2 linked regions of the Homo sapiens genome follow. The protein of the gene in region 1 purifies or fractionates together with the protein of each later gene. This does not show direct contact. Each region holds a gene or a part of one and is shown in the gene's direction. Other genes may lie near its edges.

Region 1 (4,809 bases):
CAAAGAGCCTCAAAGGCCCTTCTCACCCCACCATCCACCGTGATGTTTCCCTGCTGTGTCCAGCGCTGAGGCTGTGTGACGATGTTGTTCTTCACGCAGAGCCCTGGAGAGGCCGTTCAGTTCCCCTCTAGGGTCCAACTGCGGCTGAGGGCCGGTTACTCGAGTCCAGCCGCGCCCATTAAGAGACCTCTCCTCACTTGTAAAGGGGTCTCTCTGCTCCCAAAGAACCACAGGCCGCTGTGTATGTCGGGGGCTCACGAGCTCACGTGCTACACGGCCCAGAAGCAAAAGGTTTAGACAGATTCATCCAGGGGCTTGATTCATGGCTGAAGCGGCCAAGCAGAGCCATGCAGACGACAGCCCAGGAGACCCAACCAGACATCTGGCCTGTTCTGTTCAGGTGCAGGTGCAGGGTATGCCCTCAAGACCCTTGTCTTGCTCATGTGGTTGAGGGAGCCTGGTGCTCGGGTTTGGGAACTCCTGTGCCACATCCTGCCCCTGGCGGATTTGGTGGTGGCACGACAGGCCTGTGGGGTTTCCAGCACCCCGTCACCGCCCCACCAACTCTGCTACACAAACCAGACCCGAAGCCACTCATGTCTTTCCGCCCAGGGCACCAGCGGCTGTCGGTGACGAGCCTGCTCGTCTGCCACGGATTGCTGATGGTCGGCACCAGCCTGGGAGTCCTCGTGGCCCTGCCGGTCCCACGTCTGCAAGGGATTCCCAAAGTGACCGGTGAGTGGCACCTGCAGTCTGAGTGGCTGCATCCTGTCTTGCAGGCTCGTGGAGCATAGCAGTGTGTAGTGTGATTTAACATCCTAGGATTCTTTAAACAATTCATATTATCTGTGGTTTTTCAGTGTATTATAATGACTTAATAGACTGTTTAATTGGAATTATCAATTTATATATTTTTCCATTTTTTACCTTAGTAGTCCAAGGAGAATCTTATGTTTTTATATTCTGTTTACTGCCAGAATTAGTTTCCATCATTCCTTTCTGTGTTTTATATTGTGGAGAAGGAAGCCGGGATCTCCGTTGTTCCTTTGTGTGTTTTATATTGTGAAGAAGGAAGCCGGGATCTCCGTCATTCCTTTCTGTATTTTATGTTGTGAAGAAGGAAGCCGGGATCTCCGTCGTTCCTTTCTGTATTTTATATTGTGAAGAAGGAAGCCGGGATCTCCGTCATTCCTTTCTGTATTTTATGTTGTGAAGAAGGAAGCCGGGATCTCCGTCGTTCCTTTCTGTATTTTATGTTGTGAAGAAGGAAGCCGGGATCTCCGTCTTTCCTTTCTGTATTTTATATTGTGAAGAAGGAAGCCGGGGATCCGAAAAGGCTCCATTGTGCTATTGCAATGTCAGTAAGAGCTCAGGCTGGAACACATGGCCTTTCTGGACACAGTCCCGTTAGGGATTGGAGGCCTTAAAACATGCTTGTGTGTCTGGAATCAGGATTCCCAATCCAGGGAATTGGCCCAGGAAACAGCCTAAGCTAGGAACAAAGTATGATGCAAGAAGACATTTGCCACAGCATTTAATTTTTAACAGCACGAAACAGGAGGTGACCCGCAGTTCGTAATGACGGATTGGGCCATTTAATAAAATGGTGGCATTGCCGGTAATGGGTAGAACACAGCCAGCAGAAGTGGTGTGTGCAGAGCCTGCAGTGACGCGGAAAACTCCTCGTCCTGTTAAGTTCAGTAAACCACAGCCTTAGATTCTATGTGGGTTACTATGTCAGCCAGGGGGAAATACTAACAGAGAAAACGCTTTGCAGGAAGCTTGTAGAGCAGAACTGTTCCTACGGGCTCCATTTCTGTGATTTCCTCCCAGGCCGACCTGACGGTGGCTTCCGTGCACTCAGATTTTGGCAGGTCCACCCACAAGGATTAAGGAATTCTAGTTTTGCCATTCATTTCCTAATTTATGTTTTTATTATGATATATGGGATTGTACATGTTGAGGACCCCAAATCCAAAAACAAAATGCGAAATGCTCCAATTTTTTTTTTTTCTTTTTGAGACGTAGTCTCACTCTGGCACCCAGGACGGAGTCCAGTGGCACAGTCTCGGCTCACTGCACCCTCTGCCTGCCAGGTTCAAGCTATTCTCCTGCCTCAGCCTCCCTAGTAGCTGGGATTACAGGCACCAGCCACCATGCCTGGCTAATTTTTGTATTTTTAGTAGAGGTGGGGTTTCATCATGTTGGCCAGGCTGGTCTCGAACTCCTGAACTCAAGTGATTCGCCTGCCTTGGCCTCAGATGCTCCAAATTCTGTGTCGACGTGATGCTGAAAGGCAGTGCTCATTGGAGGAATTCAGATTTTGGATTTCAGATTTGGGATGCTCAACCGGCAAGTGCAATGCAAATATTCCAACATTAAAAAAAAAAATCCAAAACACTTGTGGTCCCAAGAATTTCAGATAAGTGACACTCAGCCTGTAAATACATAGAATTGTGCATAACGCACAGTTTCACAGTTTAAATGGTAACGAGAAGAGGCCACCTGCCTGTGCCCAGGTCAGAAGGGGCTGTGACTCACACACTGAGCCTCAGCTGCCCCTTCTCAGCCTCAGCCCTCTCTGCTCACAACCCTAGGAAATGATGATGCTGAGTTTTACGTCAATTATTCCTTTGGTCCTCCTCTGTAGTTGTACCAATTTGTATCTTAAAGGGTACTTTTCACCTTTCCGGCTTTTGCATTTTCCTAGCTGTCCCATGGTGCAAGCAGCCTCTGTTGCTTTTTCTCTCAGCCTTGCTGGGGTCAGTCCCTGCTGGTGCCACAGCTATAGTGCTTTCCTCTCCCTGCCTGCAGCCTGCCTCTGAAAGGAGGTGCCCTCATTGCCTCTGGATGGATAGCCAGGTGCTCCCTGAAAGGAGGTGCACTCTCACTGTTCCTCTGGAGGATAGCCAGGTGCTCCCTGAAAGGAGGTGCACTCTCACTGTTTTTCTGGATGGGTAGCTAGGTGCTCCCTGAAAGGAGGTGCACTCTCACTGTTCCTCTGGAGGATAGCCAGGTGCTCCCTGAAAGGAGGTGCACTCTCACTGTTCCTCTGGAGGATAGCCAGGTGCTCCCTGAAAGGAGGTGCACTCTCACTGTTTCTCTGGATGGGTAGCCAGGTGCTTCCTGAAAGGAGGTGCACTCTCACTGTTCCTCTGGAGGATAGCCAGGTGCATCCTGGAAGGAGGCACACTCTCACAGTTTCTCTGGATGGGTAGCTAGGTGCTCCCTAAAAGGAGGTGCACTCACTGTGTTTCTCTGGATGGGTAGCTAGGTGCTCCCTGAAAGGAGGTGTACTCTCACTGTTTCTCTGGATGGGTAGCTAGGTGCTCCCTGAAAGGAGGTGCACTCTCACTGTTTCTCTGGATGGGTAGCTAGGAGCATCCTGAAAGGAAGTGCACTCTCACTGTTTCTCTGGATGGGTAGCTAGGAGCATCCTGAAAGGAGGTGCACTCTCACTGTTTCTCTGGATGGGTAGCTAGGTGCATCCTGAAAGGAGGTGCACTCTCACTGTTTCTCTGGATGGGTAGCGAGGTGCTTCCTGAAAGGAGGTGCACTCTCACTGTTTCTCTGGATGGGTAGCTAGGTGCTTCCTGAAAGGACGTGCACTCACTGTGTTTCTTTGGATGGTAGCTAGGTGCTACCCATTTGCATTACACATCAAGCCTCTGTATATTTGTGTGGCTGGCTCTGCTGACATGGGCAGAAGCTCCTTCTGGGGGCTTGCCCAGGGGCAGCATCGCTGGTGTGCAGGGATCACAGGTGTGTGCTTCGCCAGGTGATGAGCGGGCCTGTCCCTGCACAGTCCCCCCAGCTCCTGCTCCCTGCAGACTTCACTTTGCCACTCTCCTCTTTGGGAAATGGACTCTCACCACGGTGGAAGATTCAGTGATGTCATTTGCCTTGGCCAGAGTAGGATGATGGTGAGGGCTGGGGCCTGTTTCATCTGAAAGCACTTGGGGAAAGGACACGTGCCCCTGTCCATATGTCATGTCACCCACAAAGCATCCAGAAGACACGCCAGGTCCACGTGATGCTTACAGAATCAGTGTGGGGGTTGCGGGGCTGTGTGTGGCTTTAAGAAGACCTGCAGGTGTTTCTGATACGATCGTGACTTTAAAATTTGAATCACATCACCTGAAAACTGAAAGTCCTAATTTTAATCAAATTATAGAGTTAAATTGTTCTGAACCCCAGAACGTTTTTGTAATGAAAAATGGCAGGCAGCCGGTAGTTTAGTCATTTCTTTCCCAAACCAACACATTTCAGGCGTTAATATTTCTAATCAAGACTTAGGAAAATTTGGGATATTTCCATAGGGTAAGTAAGAAGGTATTTTATGCAGAATGGAAAAATGACTATTTTATTACTTTGAAAAGTACAGTAGGAGTATTAGAACTGAAATAGTGCTGAGGAAAACACAACTTTCTATTTTAGAAAATCATTTTTAAAGCCTTTTTCACATTAAGTAAAAACCCAGAGGAATATAATCCAGATATTTTCATCGTAGCTTATTATTCATGTATGCAAGTTACTTACAGGCTTTGTTATTTGGGCAGGGAGGAATGCGTTGGGGTTAAGCCCTGCACTTTTTGCTTCCTTGTCTCAAATTTTGCCTATTTTAAAAGACAGCTGTTGAACTGTTTCCCTTTTCAGGAAGAGGCATGGTCTCCTACCATGCACACAACAGTCCTGTCAAATTCATCGTCCTGGCCACGGCTCTGCACGAGAAAGACAAGGACAAATCCAGGGACAGCCTGGCTCCTGGCCCCGAGCCTCAGGACGAAGACCAGAAGGACGCACTTCCGA
Region 2 (4,180 bases), on another chromosome or scaffold:
GACAAGTTGCTCCCAGCTTGAAAAGGGGGTGGTAGTGGAAGAATAGAAATCCCTATAGAGAGAATTACCCCTTCCCATCATCATCAGTCCAGCCTCCCTCCCTCTCTCACTGAGCTCTGCCAGGCTGCTTGAACTCGCTTGATAATCAGCCCCTCGATAGAAGGAAAGGAGAGATCCTAGGTCTTGGGGGAGGGGTGAAGAGGCAGCTGCCACAAGTCCCTGAACCGTCTGCCACTTGGCCTCTCTAGTGAAACTCAAATCTGCCCTTGTGGTCCCAGGAAATAAGAGGCTAATTTAGGCTCAGATCTCCATGATCAGTTGAAATTCTAGATAAATGGCCTCAAAGAGAAGGGTCTCTTTCCTAGCCTGGACCCCACCCATAGTCTCTGTATTCCGGAGCAGTTCTCAGTGTGAACCGTCTCCCCACATCCCCCACTACTGCCAGCACCCCCTCCTGTGCATGAAGGCTGCCTCCAGGAATCTGAGCCCCTTAGACAGGACCTGACAGAGAGAGCAGCTAAGGTCACCACTGCCATGTGCCAGCCCATTCATGCATTTTGGTTGCTCAACATTAGGTGTGGGGTATGGCGTTTGCTGTTGTATAACTCCAGGGAGCTCCATTCCCATTGTAGTCTATGTCTGTACAATGTGTGAATGACACTCCCTAAAGTTGTGTAACACCGAGCAGAGTGTGGGAACAAAGCATTTAAAAACTTTTTCTAGAAAAATAGCTCTTCATCTCCAAGCTAATGAGCTTTCCCACTTTTTAAGGCTTCCTGATTTCCCGTTTGAGCAGGGGCCAGGGAAAGAGGAAACACTGCTAGAAGCAGAGTGAAAGTGGTCTTCCTCCCGGGTTGGATCCCTAGCCTATTTGCGACTGTTCACTTACCAGCCCCCTCTGTGGTCACATCCTGTCTGATGGCCCCTTGTCCTATATGTCTTTGGAGATAAGCAAAGATTTGGGAACCAAGTATCACTTGTAATGTGACACCAGGCTAGTCATTCAAGGCTTTTTGAGACATCTTTGGACCATGAGTATGTGGAAAAGATTACAGGACTGGAAGTCACATCCTCTAAGTCCTCTAGTCCTGGCTTTTCCACCTATTGGGTAAGCAAGCCTCTTTGAATCTCAAGTTGTGCATCGTTATTAAATATATAATTAGGAATGGAAGATAATCTTGCCAGAAGCCTTTCTTACTCTATTAGCCTGGCCCTCTCTGTGGGATTTAAAGGTTGCTTCTTTCTTTAAGCCTGTGAACTGGGAGCTAGAGGGCAGGGGGAAGACACTGGGATTGGGGCCAGAATAAGCCACACTGCCCCTAACTTCTCCTCCCCTCTAGGCCTGAAGACCGGCGGTGGCACATCAGGTGGCTCCAGTGGCTCCTTTCACTACACCTTTCATGGGGACCCCCATGCCACCTTTGCCTCCTTCTTTGGTGGCTCCAACCCCTTCGATATCTTCTTTGCCAGCAGCCGCTCCACTCGGCCCTTCAGTGGCTTTGACCCAGATGACATGGATGTGGATGAAGATGAGGACCCATTTGGCGCTTTCGGCCGTTTTGGCTTCAATGGGCTGAGTAGGGGTCCAAGGCGAGCCCCAGAACCACTGTACCCTCGGCGCAAGGTGCAGGACCCCCCAGTGGTGCACGAGCTGCGGGTGTCCCTGGAGGAGATCTACCATGGCTCCACCAAGCGCATGAAGATCACAAGGCGTCGCCTCAACCCTGATGGGCGAACTGTGCGCACCGAGGACAAGATCCTGCACATAGTCATCAAGCGTGGCTGGAAGGAAGGCACCAAGATCACCTTCCCCAAAGAAGGCGACGCCACACCTGACAACATCCCTGCTGACATCGTCTTTGTGCTCAAAGACAAGCCCCATGCACACTTCCGCCGAGATGGCACCAACGTGCTCTACAGTGCCCTGATCAGCCTCAAGGAGGTGGGGCCTAGTCAGGCTGTGTGTGTGTGCTGGGGAGATGGTGGGGACATTCCCTCTCTTCCCGCCAGCTGGCACATTCTTTCCCCACCTCAGTCTATTTCCTTCCTTCCCACTCACCTTACCCCACCTTTTCCTCACTTTCTGCTTCGTCTTTCCCAGGCGCTGTGTGGCTGCACTGTGAACATTCCCACTATCGACGGCCGAGTGATCCCTTTGCCCTGCAATGATGTCATCAAGCCAGGCACCGTGAAGAGACTCCGTGGGGAGGGCCTTCCCTTCCCCAAAGTGCCAACTCAGCGAGGAGACCTCATTGTTGAGTTCAAAGTTCGCTTCCCAGACAGATTAACACCACAGACAAGACAGATCCTTAAGCAGCACCTACCCTGTTCCTAGGCTCTGCCCCAGCCAGTCCAGAGCCTACCACAGCAATACCCCCAACACTCACTCCACTCAATGTGCACCCAGCTTGATGTCCACTGGACACTGGCAACTTTTTCTAAAATGCAAAAAAAAGCCACTGGTTTTCAGGAAAATGTTCCTGTCCCTGACCCCTTTTAGAGCTGGGCTGCCTGGGGGGAGTGGGAGGGAGGTGGGGAGAGCTAGCCCAGGCCAGGGGTCAATGTTCATGTCACTAGCTTTCAATCCAGTTTCCACTGCAGTGGCTGGAGAGTGACCTGAGTGCTACTTGAAGATATGTAGAGATTCCTTATCCATGCCTGTACATAGCATGTCCTCCTCCCCTCAGCTTTGCTAATACCAGTCCCCTCCCTTCCCTTTGGCTTCCTGCTGTTGGGGGTGGAAAAGACTAGAAAGGACATTGCTTTCTCAGCCCCACCCCCAGGTCCACAGTGTCCAAGGTAATGGCACACATATTCATGCACAAGAAGCACTCACCTAGAGCTGTCTGTGCCTCTCTGGGAGAAAGGAGAGAGGATAAGAAGGGAAAGTTCACAACCTGTGAACAGGGACTTGAGCACGAGACACTTTTCATCTGGAGCAGGGGGGTGAGCTCCTCAGCAGCCTCCGTAACAGCTGCCCTGCCTACACCTGCAGAGCTGGAGGTTCTGTCCTCCCTGCTGCTCTCAGGAGTGTTCAAGGGTGGAGGGCAGGGAATGGGGCCTGAGGTATTAAGGCTAAGAGGTGGGGGACAGGGCCCATCTACCAGCCTTCATCAGGAAGGGAAAGGGCTTTGGGGTCAGGTGGCAGCTATTCCCCACCAAGAGATTCAGGGTCACAGGTTTTTCCCCACACCTCTGAACTCAGGGCCTAGCCACCCCCAAACTTCCAAATCCCACTTTTGTGATATGTGAAGCTACTCATTTCTTACCCTTGGAGGCTGTGTGGGGAATTTCCAGCCCTTTTATGCCTGTGTGATCCCACCCCACCCCCATAGTTGTATAAAGGTCATAGTGAAGAAGCTGGGGGAAGACTGCTTCAGCCAGATCCTGGGGTGGGGTCTTTAGGTTTTCTCACTTTGACAACCCCCGAATGTTTTTATAGTAGTTTTTTTGTATTTTTTTGTAATGACAGTATTATGTAAAAAATAAAGTATTTTAAAAATATGGCATCTGAGCAGGAGCAACAAACCTGGGATGGGGGTGGCTGAGGAGGGCCACTGTCATCCTCCCTCCCGGGCTCTGGTCACCTTTGAGAAGCCCAAGCAGGCCCTCAGTATAAGCTGAAGCTGACCTCTGCCTTCCTCGAAGCCTCCTGGGATTTCTAAAACTTATACTTCAAACACAGCACAGACAGAAAGTACCACTCAGCTATTAGAAGAAACATCTATTTGGGAAGGAAAAATATCCCTGCTCATGAGAGACAGAGACCATTGTCTTCAGATGTGCTAGCATGAAAACAGATTTTCTCTTCTTGTCTAAATTTTCTCTGAGTCAGACAAATTTTCCTTCTAGGAGAAAATTTTTTTCTAGGAGGGGGTGGAGAACTTTTTTTTTTTTTTTTTTTTTTTGACACGGAGTCTTGCTCTGTCGCCCAGGCTGGAGTGCAGTGATGCGATCTTGGTTCACTGCAGCCTCTGTCTCCTAGGTTCAAGCGACTCTCCTGCCTCAGCCTCCGAGTAGCTGGGATTACCGGCATGCACCACCACACCCGGCTAATTTTTGTATTTTTGGTAGAGACAGGGTTTCACCATGTTGCCCAGGCTGGTCTCAAACTCTTGACCTCAAGTGATCCGCCTGCCTTGGCCTCCCAAAGTGCTGGGATTACAAACATGAGCCACTG

What was found. The genes of interacting proteins can lie anywhere in the genome.
Region 2: the proteins of ARHGEF10 (region 1) and DNAJB5 purify together in Homo sapiens (affinity purification with mass spectrometry; 3 studies listed by BioGRID and IntAct, with this or other methods). This does not show direct contact.

Annotation. Positions count from the first base shown.
Region 1 is NC_000008.11:1,952,093-1,956,901, forward strand, and holds part of ARHGEF10 (rho guanine nucleotide exchange factor 10), read left to right. Parts: intron 1-612; coding exon 613-735; intron 736-4,656; coding exon 4,657-4,809. UniProt on the Homo sapiens protein: May play a role in developmental myelination of peripheral nerves.
Region 2 is NC_000009.12:34,994,925-34,999,104, forward strand, and holds the end of DNAJB5 (dnaJ homolog subfamily B member 5), read left to right. Parts: intron 1-1,340; coding exon 1,341-1,942; intron 1,943-2,101; coding exon 2,102-2,335; 3' UTR 2,336-3,504; downstream 3,505-4,180.